Linked DNA regions of Homo sapiens: region 1 is linked to region 2. The links come from fine-mapping of genetic effects on gene expression. Tissue or cell type: whole blood. Region 2 holds a variant in brackets; the other region holds the start of a gene. All regions are shown on one strand. Distances are from middle to middle.

Region 1 (6,795 bases), 25 kb after region 2:
TGGGGGACGGGCTAGGCCTGGCATGAGAATGCACGGTGGAAGTTGGCCACAAGATAGGCACCGAGATGCTGCCCCCCTCCAGGCCACTCATAGCCCCCTGTGCCTGTTGGGAGGAGGCAAGCGATGGGACTAAGCCCTGCTTACCCGACAAAGAGTGCAAGGTAGCAAGTGGTGAGGGAGCAGAGAAGGGCAAAAGTGGAAGACGGTTCGAGAAGCTAACTTGAGAAAGGGGCATTTCTGTATCAGCCTAGGCACCAGGACTCTCGGGTCCTGGGAACTCTCTGGAGCCCTTTGTTCAGCTCTCAGGAGCACATCTTCCAGGCCAACAGCCACCCCACCCTAGAGATGTGGAAAAATCTGCAGATTTGATTCCTGTCATGGTACACAGGGCAGGAACCCAGAAGGGGGAGCAAGGCAGAGAGGTAAGGGCTAGGCCTGGGCTCTGGAGGCAGATGTCGTCAGTACATCACCCTGACACCTGGGCCAGGCCCGACAGGCTCCTCCTATCCCTCAGCCCTGCCAAAGGGCAGCCCACAGGGCAGGGGCAGGGGCAGGGGCAGGCAGCAGACAGGCTCTCACCATGTTGTGAATGAGGTTGGTGAGGGTCCAGACGACAGGGACACTCACAAACGGGATGCTCAGCAGCACGATGTGGAGGAGACCGATGGCCAGCACGTAGGAGAGCCAGATGCCACGGCTGTTCATCACCCGCGTGTTGGGGTTCACCTCGCTGTGCGCTGTGCCCACATTCATCCTGCTGCCCCTCTCTGCTGTTCTGCAAACAAGCAGCACAGGTCAGACAGGTCACACTGCTTTCCCTGCCCCCTCTCACCCTCGGATCCCGCTGGGAGGCAGGCCCTTGTTTCCCTGAGAACTCCAGGCAGTTCCACTCTTTTGATTCTGAAGCATGGAAAGTGGAGAAAGTCCATGTGGACTTAGCTCTACTCATTTCCTGCTGCTGGGCTGGGATAAACAACAGGCTGCCCCATGCATCATCCCATTGGGACAGGGCCCTGGCAGGGCATCGGAGGACAGGTCATCAAGAGGCACGCAGCCCCAGGGCAGAGAAGTCAAGGCCCATCCCCCAGCCTCACCCCCTATGGCACTCCCATGAGGACCCTCTGCCGACAAAGCCCCAGGGAGAGAATTCTCACTCAGCACAACCCCTGCTGGACTGTGTCTCACTGAAGGCCTAATGTGGGACATCTGCTCTTAAGCTCTTCCCATCAGGAGGGAAAGGAAGTGAGGCCTGTGGGTACAGGCAGCAGTGGATGAACTATTTTGAGGTCACTGCATCCACTCACCTCCTCTGATTTTTTCAATTCTGGATCTCCCCAAACCCCAACTTAGGAGGACTGATCAGGTAGAAAGAGGGAAGTGGGGAGGGAGGAAGGGAGGAAGAAAGGAGAAAACAACAGACTAGGGACAACCTTTGCCCAGACCTAGAAGGCACCCCTCCTGGGTGACACAAAACAACCCATCCGGATGTTTTCTCCATTTGGCAGCCACTCAGGCCAACCCTTGTGATGCTACCCACTCCACTGCCAAACCACCAGGGCCCTTTTCCCCACAAGAGAGGCGAGGATAGAGAACGTGGCCAACACCTGTAACTCCCATAGAGAGCTGGAATCCACCTCAACATATGTCTCCTAAGGGCACAGACTCGAACCTGTGGCCTCCCTCCTGCCCCCGTTCTTCTCTGTCCTGCCCATCCTCACCTCAGTCTCCCCTCTCAGCACCTGTTTCCAGGTGTATATTAGCACCATGCCTTCCCCTGCCCAGCACCAACGGTAGGAGTCCTGCAGCAGGAGGAACCAGGAGGTGGCCGCAACCCACAGTGAGCAGAGGGAAGTAGAGAAGGAAGGGGTGGAATGATCTGCCCCTTATCCAGAGTTTGGCTGTCCCCAGATCCCTGAGGGCCCTGTGACCAGGAGAAAGTGGAGACAGATGGCACCTGTGTACTGGCTCACCTCCCTATCTGAGATAGGGTCCTGCTTGCTAAAGACCGTAAGGTCATCACCATGGTAACAGCCCCATCTTTCCTGGGAATGCAGAAAAGAGTCCCAGATGGAGATATTCTAGAAGTACCCAGAAGGCCACCTCCCTCACGCCCCTGCAGCAACCCCGTCAGACCCAGATGCTATCTATCTCTGACTAGGATCCTAGCCAAACCTGCACAGGAGACTGAGTCCTCAGGGGCCAGTTATTTACTTCCAGGATAACAGGAGCAAGTTTCCTCTTCTCAGACAGCTCCAAGCTTAGAGACCTCAGAGAAAATGTGACCCACAACACGCCATCCCAACAAGCAAACACCCGTGCGCCAGCCTGGGGCGCATTCTGATTGAAGAGATGCTCCTGGGACCCATCAGCGCAGCCCACTAGGCTGGATAATTGAGCCTAACAGAAATTCAAGTATCTAGAAAGCCAGAGCTGGCTCAGATTGTTTATCTTCCCAGGGCCTTGGGGCTTCAGTTACTCTAGCAGCCCCTGGGACAGCTGCTACGCAAAAGCCTCCACCTGAGAGGGGAGGGCGGCATGTGGCTGACAAGTGAGGGCTCTGAAGGACTTAACTCTGACTAAGGAGAGGGAAAGAGCTTCCCAAGTCTGACCTGAAACTGCCACCCCATCACCTCTCTGTAACCCGCACCTACAGGGGTGCTGGTATAGAAAGTCCACTAACCCTTCCTAGTATTTGTCCAGGAGTGCCAAAAGCCTTGGGGAATCCCAGATCACAGGACCCCATACGCCTTTCTGGCTTTCACAGGGCAGCCAACAAAACTTGATGAGCCTAGGAAAAGCCTAGACCTAGGTCCTAGCCAACACCCTCAGAAGCTTCTTCCTGAAGCCTAAACACTAGGTGCCCTGAGAGCAGGAAACCACCAGAGACCCCTGAAAAAGAAGAGATCAATAAACTAACAAAAAGACTGGCAATGAGGAAACACTCTTGAGACTTTCGTGTGACTATGGATACATATCACTTCCATTAGTAAAACAACCAACTGGCCCCTACCCTAGATGGGGAGAAACAGAGAGAAGAGGCTGGCAGAGGTCGACTAGGTCTACAGGAGTTGAGCCGAAAACTTCTGCTGCCATAGCTGGCAGGTGGCTGCTTAGTGCTGGGCCCTGATGTGGTTTCATAACCTGCCTCAAACCAGAGCCTGCAGCAACTCTGTTGTGTTAACCACTTTTTTGCTGGTAGCTCTTTCCCCCTCCTTCCCGCCCCACCCTCTTGGCTCCACATACAAATATCCGGGCCCAGCCAGTATGCCAGACACTCAAGCCAAGGCTGAGCACCACCAGGGCAGCCACCAGGTGAGCCCTTCCCATTCCCTCCCCCAGGAAAGAGCAGCCCTCACAACAGCAAACCTCCTGTCTTCTGGAAGAGGAGCACAAAACATCCAGGCCTGGATGGGGACCCCAACGGGGAGTCCGGGGCAGCACGTCACAATGCCATGTCCATTCCGCCCACCCCCCAAGCTGCAGGACCACAGCTGATAACCTCTCAACTTTGGCCCAGCCACCCCGACTGGGGGAGGGCGGTAGGAGCGGAAAGCGAGTGCCCAGGCGAACCCGCACTAAGCACAGGAGAGGAGGAGCGAAGAGGCGGAGTCCTCACTGTTGTTGGGGTTTTCTGAGTGAGACCTCGGGTGCGGGGCCGGGGGGAGGGGTCCCGCTCTGTTCCCCAGCCTGGGTCTTCGCACTCGGAACCCGGTCCGGTCCGGGACCCCACAGCCATCTCCACGCGTTCACCCAGCCCTGGAGGCAGCCAAACGTTTATCCCCGAAGCCGAGCCGCTCCCCGCCTCCCACCCCTAGCCGAGGCGCTCCTCCCGACGTTCCACCCCCGGCCTCCCGCTCGCACTTTATTCCTTGGCCACCTCCCCAGCCGATGCACCCCCTCGGCTGATGCACTCCCTCCACCCCCCACTCCCTCTGCCCCCGTCTCTCCAGCCCGGGGCGCCTCCCCAGCAGCCCCCACCTTCTCTCCCGCCCCTCCCGTAGCCCTGGGGCCTCTTGGTTCCTTCCGGGCTCACCGTGTGGGGCCGAAGATCAACGGCCCGGGAACGGTTCCCGGGAGCGGGGGCCGCTGCTGCTCCAGCAGCTGTAACAACCCGCGGCTGCAGCCTCCCCGCTGGCAGCTCCGGCCGAATCAGCGCTCCGCGCCGGTCCCCGTACGTCACCGCCCCGCGCCGGCACGCCCGACGCCTTCTGGGAGTTGTAGTTTCTTCCGCTGGCTCCGGGCCGGCCCTCCCGACGCCTCCTGGGAGTTGTAGTTTTTCCTGGGCTCCGTTCCCGGCCTCTTCGGGGACGCACGGTTGGAAGTTGTACCGTGACGTGATGGTCAGATCGGATGATAGAATTTTGGTGCGTAACAATTCCAACTTTTGCTTCTGTGCCCTTCAAGTGTATTTTATCCGTGCCCCAGTTTTGCAGATGAGGAGACTCGGACTTGTAAGTAACTTTCTGTAGGTCTTTGCTGGGTCCTAGACTGGATCGAAACCCAAATATTCTGACCCCAACTGCAGGATTTTTCCACTGCACCTGGCTGCCTCCGCCCTGGCCCCAGATTGGCTCCTCCAGAAACAGACTAGCCCGGCCCTTTGCCCTGCTGGGCCCTCCTGGGAGAGCGCTTTTCACAACATTGGCTGGGATGAGGGTCTGGAGGGCCCGGAACGGAGCCTGCCTTCTCCTTCTCAGTCACGCTTGGCCCAGGCTGCCCCGGACCGGGCCACATCCTTGGCCGCCCCGCACCTGACGTGAGAAGAGGCTACGTATCATAGATTCCTCCATCAGTAGTAAGGAGCCTGAGTTTCTGTCTCAGGTCAGCTTGTGTGGCTTTGAATGAGAGGCTCTGGTCTGCAGTTTTCACATCTGCATCGTCTAAAGGCAAGGGCACAGACTTTACTGCCTGGTAGACATGGGGTAGGCCCTCCTTTATTGGCAGTGTGACCCTGGGCAAATTACTTGTCTTAATCTCCAATTCCACACCTGTGAAACCCCACCTCCAAGGTTGTGGGAACCCAAAAGAATGTATGTAAAGCACCTGTTGCATTGTAGGAATCTACTTAATATTACTGTAGGAGGTTGAACTAAATGGCTCTTGAGGTCTCCTCGGTTACTCCCATTCTCCATGTCACCAAGAGGTCTTGTCTGGGTAGTTTCAACTCCTTACCCAGCTTCTTTCTAAGTCCACTCTATGCAGGGCAGGGCTGGAATAGCAAGGTCAGATGATGTCATGGCATGCCAACCTGACTCTGAATGGCAGTTCATGGCACCCTGAACTGAAAGTGAGGGAACAGGAAGGAAAAGGCTAGCCCAGGGAAACTGCGGAGCACTTTACTCGGACTACACCTACCTTTCCTTCCCCAGGGGGCTGCCAGGAAACAGTTGTCACACAGCTGGAGTGGGACCCCCAGAGGCACTTAGTGGTCACCAGGCAGGTGGGTATTTGAACCACCCAGAGCAGAACAGGCAGCTTCTTCAATATTTCCAGGGCCAATGGCCCCAAAAGGGCTCATTCCAAGATCGAAATAATCATCTGAGTCTGAAATAGCTCTGCCTATGTCCTGTGGAAGTTTCTCCTGGTTTGTGGAGGTGCCTTTCCTTATAGTCATCTTTCTGCAGACATAAGCAAACCCAGTGTTGTTCTTTTCACAGAAACCTCCCCAGCATTAAGGCAAGAAAGGTGTCTCTGTTTTTTCCGAAGTGTGCCTGCTTGACTCCTTTGATTTTTCTCTGGGATTCTTCATCCTCCATCAAGTTGATCGATCCCTCTGGATCTTGGTCAGTTTCCTGACATCTCTATGAAGTTCAGTGACCCAGACTGAGTCCACGTCTCAAATAAGGTTCTGACTAATGCAGAGTCTAACAGAAAGATTACTGAACATGTCATGCACTATTAATAACTCCTGTTATCGAGGATTTTTTTTTCACAATAGGAATGAACAGAGTTCTGACTCACTCTAGGTTTGTGGTAAATTGCAGATCACTTTCTGCTTTATTTAGCGGGAGTCCCTGTTGTCATCTTTCTCCTTCTCTCTTGGCCCTCATAATTATCATATCTTCCCCAAACGTTCTTCAGCTGTGAATAGCCCTAAGCACTATTCAGAGTGAGTGACAGCTCTCTTATTTCGTGCTGGGGGACATACAAACCCTTGGACAAACACTTGTCACTGTGTGCCAAGAAGCTGAAAAATTCTTCTTGCCTCAGAGCCATAATTACACTTTTGGTAGCATATTCTAAGGAAGTCATCCCATGTACAGGAAAAGCTGCAATGTGTCAGGATGTTCATTCCAGCAATATTTATAGTAGTGAAAAACTGAAAGCAACCAAATGCCCAAGAAAAAAATTACAGTATATCCACTGGATGGAATAGTATGAAGCCATTTAGGACAGATTGTGAAAACCCTGTGGCAGTATGGGGAATGTTTGCTAAGTTATATGAAAAGATGAGGACACAAAATAGCATAACATACATTCCCCAGGGATATAGTCAGCAAAGTCTAGAATGAAGAAAATTAGGACAAACACCCAATTCCCTTAACAAATAAAACTGGGGCCAGGTATGGTGACTCACGCCTGTAATCCCAGCACTTTGAGAGGCCAAGGCTTGTGTCCAGGAGTTCGAGACCAACCTGGACAACATGGTAAAACCCCGTGGTCTACAAAAAATACAAAAATTAGTTGGGCATGGTGGTGTGTCTATAGTCCCAGCTACTCAGGAGGCTGAGGTGGGAGGATCAATTGAGCCCGGGAGGTCAAGGCTGCAGTGAGCTGTGATCGTGCCAGTGCATT
Region 2 (7,789 bases):
TAATGTTATTTCATAGTGGTTTTAATTTGTATTTCCCTGATTAGTAATGGAGTCAAGCATCAGTTTATACATTTGTTAGCCATTTGGTTTTTCCTTTATGGAAAGTGCCGTTCAAATATTTTGTCTGTTTTTCTAATGGGTCATCTTTTTGTTATTGATTTGTATTAGTTCCTTATACATTCTGGATACTAGCCCTTTGTAAGTTGCATGTATTTTAAATATCTTCTCCCACTCCGTGGGCTTTTTACCCTCTTTATCATATATCTTGTGAACAGAAGTTTTTAATGTTAATATAATTATCATTTTACCTTTCACATTTAGATCTATAACCCATCTGGAATTTAATTTTTATGTATACTGTGTGATAGGGATCCTTTTTTTTTTTTTTTTCTGAGACGGAGTCTCAACCTGTTGCCCAGGCTGGAGTGCAATGGCGTGATCTCAGCTCACTGCAACCTTCACCTCCCAGGTTCAAGCGATTCTCCTGCCTCAGCCTCCTGAATAGCCGGGATTACATGCGCCTGCCACCACACCCAGCTAATTTTTGTATTTTTAGTAGAGATGGGGTTTCACCACGTTGGCCAGGCTGGTCTCAAACTCCTGACCTCAGGTGATCTGCCCACCTCGGCCTCCCAAAGTGCTGGAATTACATGCATGAGCCACCACACCTGGCTCATTTTTTTTTTTTTTTCTTTTTAGAGACAGGGTTTCACTCTGTCACCCAGAATGGAGTGCAGTAGCAGTCATAGCTCACTGTAACCTCAAACTTCTGGCTCAAATTAACCTCCTACTTCAGCCTCCCAAAATGCTGGAATTACAGGTGTGAGCCACCATGCCCAGCCAAATTTCATTTTTTATCTACATGCTTATCCAGTTGTCTTGGCACCGTTTATTGAAAAGTCTAGCCTTTCTTAACTAATCTTCAGTGACACTTTTCTCATATATCAAATGTCCATTTTTACATGGGGATCCATTTCTGAGATCTCTATTTCATTGTTTTTCTGTCTATCCCTGTTCAGTGCCACACTGAAATAATATAGCTTTCAAAATCAGTCTTGGATCTGGTAGAACAAGTCTTTCCACCTTGTTCTTCTTCAAGAGCCTCATAGCTGTTTTTGCCCTTTGCATTTTAGAATCAGCTTTTTAAATTACACACCTACATAAACACACACACACAAACACACACACTCACTCATTCACTCAACTGTTAGGATTTTTATTGGGATTGTACTGAATCCATAAATCAATCTGAGAAGAATTAACATTTTTACAATATTGTGTCTCCTAATCCTTCAATGTAGTATCTCTTCTTTTGTTTAAGTCTTTTCTAAGGTCTCTCAGTAAGATTTTTTTTTTTTTTGAACAGAGTCTCGATCTGTCACCAGGCTGGAGTGCAATGGCGCGATCTCGGCTCACCACAACCTCTGCCTCTCGGGTTCAAGCGATTCTCCTGCCTCAGCCTCCCAAGTAGCTGAGATTACAGGTGTGCGCCACCACGCCCAGCTAATTCTGTATTTTTAGTAGAGATGGGGTTTCTCCATGTTGGTCAGGCTGGACTTGAACTCCCAGCCTCAGGTGATCCGCCCACCTCAGCCTCCCAAAGTGTTGGGATTGCAGGTGTGAGCCACCACACCTGGCTTCAGTAAGATTTTATAACAATGTATTTCAGCTCTTTCGGACCTTCAGTTCAACATTTTCCTAAATATTTCATATTTTTGGTGCCATTATCATTGTATTTTTCAAATTTCATTTTGTACTTGTTAGTGGTATATATAGGATTACAACTGGTCCATATATTGATTTTACAAAATTGTTAAATTATTAATTTCATAATTTATCTGTAAATCTTCTGGATTTTCAATGTACACATTAGATCATCTGTAAGTAATGCAATATTTTATAATTCTTACATATTTTGTTGCTTTTTCTTGTTTAACTGCATTTGCTAGATCTTCTGTACAATGTCAAATAGACAGTGATAGTGAATATCCTTGTCTTATTACTGATTTCAGAGAGAAAGCTTACAACATTTTACCATAAATATGATATTTACTATAAATATTTTGTATATACTCTTATCAGATTAAAGAAGTTTCCTCCTGTTCCTAGTTTTCTTTTCTTTTTTTTCTTTTTTTTTTTTTGAGACGGAGTCTGGCTCTGTCCCCCAGGCTGGAGTGCAATGGCGTGATCTTGGTTCATTGCAACCTACACCTCCCGGGTTCAAACGACTCTCCCACCTCAGCCTCCCAAGTAGCTGGGGTTACAGGAACCCACTACCAAGCCTGGCTAATTTTTGTATTTTTGTAGAGATGGGGTTTCACCATGTTGGCCAGGCTGGTCTTGAACCCCTGACGTCAAGTGATGCGCCCACCTCGGCCTCCCAAAGTGCTGGGATTACAGGTGTAAGCCACCACACCTGGCCCTGTTCCTAGTTTTCTTGGAATTTTAATCATGAATGGACATTGAATTTTATCAGATGCATTTTTGTCTTTATTGAAATGATCCCATCATTTTTCTTCTTAAATTGCTAGTGTGGTAAATTACATTAATTTTTCAATGTTAAGCCAGCCTTGAAATCCCAGATAAATCCAGTTTATATTATTATTTTTCTACGGTGATTTGGTTTGCTGATTTGTTTTTCTGTTTTTTCATCTAAGCTCACGAATGAGACTGGCCTGCATTTTCCTTTCTCTTATTGTTCTTGTTAAGTTTTGCTAGTGTTGTGGATGAATTGGAAAGTGTCTCTGAAAAAGTTTGTGTGAAATTAGAGTTACTTATTCTTAAATGCTTAATTGTATAACTGAAGAAACCATCTGGGCTTGGAATTTTCTTTGTGGGAATATTTTGTTTGTTTGTTTTTGAGAAAGAGTCTCACTCTGTCACCCAGGCTGGAGTGCAGTGTCGTGATCTCGGCTCACTGCAACCTCTGTCTCCCAGATTCAAGCAATTTTCATGCCTCAGCCTCCTAAGTAGCTGGGATTACAGGCATGCGCCATCATGCCCAGCTAATTTTTGTATTTTTAGTAGACACGGGCTTCACCATGTTGCCCAGATTGGTCTCGAATTCTTGACCTCAAGTGATCCACCCACCTCAGTCTCCCAAAGTGCTAGGATTACAGGTGTGAGCCACCGTGCTTGGCCAATATTTTGTTCTTGATAGAGTATCCTTTGTTCTTAGAGGATTATTCATGTTTTCTGGTTTTTCTTGTTGTTGTTGTTGTTGTTGTTTTTTGAGACAGAGTCTCGCTCTGTCGCTCAGGGTGGAGTGCAGTGGCACAATCTCTGCTCACTGCAAGCTCTGCTTCCCTGGTTCACACCATTCTCCTGCCTCAGCCTCCTGAGTAGCTGGGACTACAGGTGCCTGCCACCATGCCCGGCTAATTTTTTGTATTTTTAGTAGAGATGGGGTTTCACCGTGTCAGCCAGGATGGACTCGATCTCCTGACCTCGTGATCTGCCCACCTTGGCCTCCCGAAGTGCTGGGATTACAGGCGTGAGCCACCGCGCCAGGCCCATGTTTTCTATTTTTTTCTGGGACAACTTTGGGAAATTGTATTTTTTTAGGATAACACCCATTTCACCTAAAATTTCAAATTTATTGGCATAAAGTCGTTTCTAATATCCTCCTGTCTTTTAAATGCCTGTAACATCTTTAGAACTGTTCCCTTTTCACTCTTAAAACTGATGATATTTGCTCCCTCTCTCTTTTTATCACTCTTGTCAAGCTGGGCACGGTGGCTCACACCTATAATCCCAGCACTTTGGGAGGCTGAGGTGGGTGGATTACCTGAAGTCAGGAGTTCAAGATCAGCCTGGCCAACATGGCAAAACTCTTGTCTTTACTAAAAAATACAAAAATTAAACAGGTGTGGTGGTGTGCACCTGTAGTCCCAGCTACTCAAGAGGCTGAGGCAAGAGAATTGTTTGAATCCAGGCAGTGAAGGTTGCAGTGCGCCAAGATTGCACCACTGCACTCCAGCCTGGGAGACAGAGTGAGACTCCATCTCAAAAACAAAAACAAATAAATAAATTAAATTAAATATCACTCTTGTCAGAGATCTGTGAGTCATTTTAAAGGTCCAATGTCTGTCTTTATTGATCCTCTTAATGTTTTTGTTTCTTATTTTGTCAATTTGTGTGCTTTTTCTCCTCTTTTTCCTGGATTTATTTTGCTGGGCTTTTTTGGAGGGGAAGGGAGCGGCTTGTTGTTGGGTTTGTTTTGGAGTTTTCTTTGTTAGCTTTTTGACATGAATACTTAGCTTTTTGATTTTTTTAGCTTTTTTTCTTTTCTAAAACAAACAAGGTGAAACATATATTTTCTCTAAAAACAAAAGACTTTAGCTTAATTCCACAAGTTTGATATGTATATTTTTATTATCACTAAGTAGAAAAAAAAATCTTATAACTTCCATTAGGATTTCTCCCTTGACTTTTGAGTTACTTGACAGTATGTGCCTTAGGCCGGCATAGTGGCTCACTCCTATAATTCCAACACTTCAGGAGGCTGAGGAGGGAGGACCACTTGAGCCTAAGAGTTCAACACCAGCCCTGGCAACATAGTGAGGCCCTGGCAACATAGTGAGACCCCATCTCTACAAAAAATAAAAATAAAAAATTAGATGGGGCATGGTGGTGCGTACCTGTGGTCCCAGCTACTCAGGGGGCTGAAATGGGAGGATCACTTGAGCCCAGGAGGTAGAGGCTGCAGTGAGCCATGATTGCACCACTGCACTCTAGCCTGGGCAACAGAGCAATACCACATCTCTCAAAAGGAAAACATATGTGCCTTAGCCAGCCAAGCACAGTGACTCACACCTGTAATCCCAACACTTTGGGAGGCCAAGGCAGAAGGATCGCTTGAACCCAGAAATTCAAGACCAGCCTGGGCAATACAGGGAGACGCCATCTCTACAAAAAAAATTTTTTAAATTAGCCAGGCATGATGGTGCACACCTGTAGTCCCAGCTACTCAAGAGGCTGAGGTGGGAGGATCGCTTGAGCCTGGGAAGTGGAGGCTGTAGTGAGCTGTGATTGCTCCACTGCACTCCAACCTGGGTGACAGAGCATGACTCTGTCTCAAATATATATATTTGTGGAAGATTACTTCCTCCAGAGATAATTTGTGTTTGGTTCTGACAGGCATCTGGGGGTACATTCAGTCCAAGACCCCCAAAAACCAAGTTCACAATTTCAGATTCTCTGGAATTCTCAAGAGGATACAAATGCAGGCTAAGTTCTGAGAAAAGACTGGGCTGTGGTTTTCTCAGAATTTTTTTTCCTTTCCTTTCGCTAACCTCTTCCTCACTCAGTACCAAGAGAGTCT[T/C]CCCTGCAGTCCCCTGGGGGTGGAGTAAGAACAGTAAGTTTACTGCTGATTCACCCTAACACTTACAGTGTAGCCTTTGAGATTAGTCTAATATGGTAGGGCAGGTTTCCTTGTACTAGACTCCCAAACTTGGATAGGCCCTTGGCCTTGGCTTCTGGAGCCATCAGTCCAGGAGGCTAGCCAAACCCAAACTTAGTTTGCCTGGATTTGCAAATATCAATCCCCCTTACCTGAGGCAAAATTACTTTAATGTTCTGATATTTCACTTACCTCTCTGGGTCTCTAGAAAGAAAGGGTAGGTCACAGAGTAACTTCACCTGCTAATTTATATTTGGGAAATGTTTGAATGTTTTATAACAAGCATACATTTCTTTAACTTTTAATTACAGTTTCTTTAAAAATATCAAATAGAACTAAAAAGCTGGCCAGGCGCGGTGGCTCACCGCTGTAATCCCAGTACTTTGGGAGGCCGAGGGGGGTGGATCACTGGAGCTCAGGAGTTCGAGACCAGCCTGGCCAACAAGGGTTAAACCCCATCTCTACTAAAAATACAAAAATTAGCTGGGCATCATTGTGGGCACCTGTAATCCCAGGTATTCTGGAGACTGAGGCAGGAGAATCGCTTGAACCCAGGAGGCAGAGGTTGCAGTGAGCCGAGATCACGCCATTGCACTCCAGCCTAGGCAACAAGCTGTCTCAAAAATAAATAAATAAATAAATAAATAAGTAAATAAATAAATAAATAAATAAAAGCCTGATGATAAAAACAGCAATCTCCTGTCTACCCCTCAGTCCCACACCTGCCAGCCTGCACTCCTTTCATTGCTTTCTAGCTTCCAAAGATGTGTTAAAGTTTCTTATCTGCTGCTGCATTCTTTCTATCCTTGTAGGTTTATACAAAGTTTTTCTATTGCTTTACTGTCATTTAGTGAGGCTTCAAAAGACAAAATTAACATGCACAACCTGCCACTTTTAATCAGAAGTCCATGTATGAAATCCAGGCTGGTTTTGGATGTTAACATGGAGCGAATGGGATACATCAAAGAATGGTTGGCTGCTTGTTTTAAAGAGGTCCCACTGGTGACAGGATGGTAGTGGCGATGGCAGTGAGGACAGACTGGTAAAGGGAAAACCCAGAGGCTTGTGGGGAGAAAGGGCTTTTGTAGTTAGGAAGAGACAGAGGTAGGCCCCTCAGCCAGCTCCAGCAGGATAGAGACAACAACATACAGCGCACAGAGAATTCGTGCCTCAGGGTCATAGTCCATGTCAGGAGGACTGCTGGCCAGCTCATCCCAGTTCTGCTCCATGACAGATTTCACCTGGAAGGAAACCCCCCAGATTGTAACAGCTAGGAACAACGATATACCAGAAATGGCAAATATTTGGCCACACTCCTTGCTGCTGAGCTGATAGGCAGACGTAATAATCCATCATGGCACTCTTTCCTGCAGAGCCCGGAGAGCTTCATACTCTCTCAACATAGTGGCAGGCTCTGCTAGTCAGTCTGCATGGGAACTCAAGATCATACCAGCTGCTGTCCTGGGACTAACCAATTTGCAGCCCTCTCTTGCCCACAGATAAAAAACAGAGCCTAAAGAACCCACCACAAATTGTTCTGGCAACTCTCTGTCCAGGGAATTGTCACAAACCAGCTGCATGGATGTGAGCCGGCAGAAAACTATGGAATAAGAAGGGGCTGTACCCTGGGACTTCTGGGTCCCTTGAGAATATGGGCATTCCCTTCCACTATGACCATGGCCCTCAGCCCAGGCTGTCTCACCTGGTCCTTCAACAGAGGAAGGGTCCCCTTCTCCAGGGCCTCAGCCACAAACTGCTGCTCTTCAGACAGCTCTGGGGGCAAAGAAAGAGTGGTAAAAAGGAGAGATATATGGTGGGACAGGGCCTCAGTGGCTGATCACACCCAGAACATGTATCATCAAAAGGTTCCAGAGAGCCCCTGGGAGTGCTAGATGAGACTTACTCCAAACAGGCCTCTGCTGTGACTCCTGCTTCCCTCTTGGCCTGCAGGAGTCACAGACGAGGAACCAGCCCCTCAATGCCTGGCCTGAGGAAGACATGAAGGAGTGCCCCCCATAAACTGTGAAGAGCAACATGCAGCCCCTCCTCCCAAGATGTGACTCCCCACAGGCCTCTCTGCTCACACTTCCTCCACCCCAGCCTACAGCGAGACCCTTCCTCACCTAGCAGGGCATCCAGGAAGTCCAGAATGGCTTTTGCACGCGCTTCTACCAAGACCCCAGCAGCATTAAAAAGGCTGCTTAGGAGAGGCTTGTCTGGGTCCTCCATGTGTAGCTCCCCGGAAATCAGGACCTCAGATACCTAGGGCCAGGAAGTGTGGGAGATGAGCAGCAGTCTCACCATAGCAGATTATCCTCACTGTGCCAACTGCCATCCCCTCTGGCTCCTATCTCTCTCTGCCCCAAGGCTTTCTTAGGGTCCCTTACT

Evidence for each region. PIP is the estimated chance that this variant, and not a neighbour inherited with it, causes the effect.
Region 1: it holds the start of ORMDL3, and the variant in region 2 is fine-mapped to the expression of ORMDL3 in whole blood (INTERVAL, PIP 0.97).

What each region holds. Positions count from the first base shown.
Region 1 is chr17:39,923,451-39,930,245 of GRCh38, forward strand. It overlaps ORMDL3 (ORMDL sphingolipid biosynthesis regulator 3), which reads right to left and starts at 4,151. Exons shown (of 4, transcript NM_139280.4): 1 at 4,034-4,151; 2 at 580-775. The coding sequence starts at 753. It overlaps LRRC3C (leucine rich repeat containing 3C), which reads left to right and starts at 4,282. Exons shown (of 4, transcript NM_001195545.2): 1 at 4,282-4,364. LOC124903999 (a long non-coding RNA gene) reads left to right here and starts at 3,270. Exons shown (of 2, transcript XR_007065750.1): 1 at 3,270-3,312; 2 at 3,478-3,552. RefSeq lists enhancers at 1-667, 668-1,453, 3,405-4,015, 4,016-4,627.
Region 2 is chr17:39,898,323-39,906,111 of GRCh38, forward strand. GSDMB (gasdermin B) reads right to left here. Exons shown (of 11, transcript NM_001165958.2): 8 at 7,789; 9 at 7,525-7,663; 10 at 7,104-7,174; 11 at 6,273-6,642. The coding sequence ends at 6,490. Among named protein-coding and RNA genes, the nearest start is that of GSDMB, 16 kb to the right of the region's middle. The variant T/C (reference allele first, on the strand shown) is at 5,324.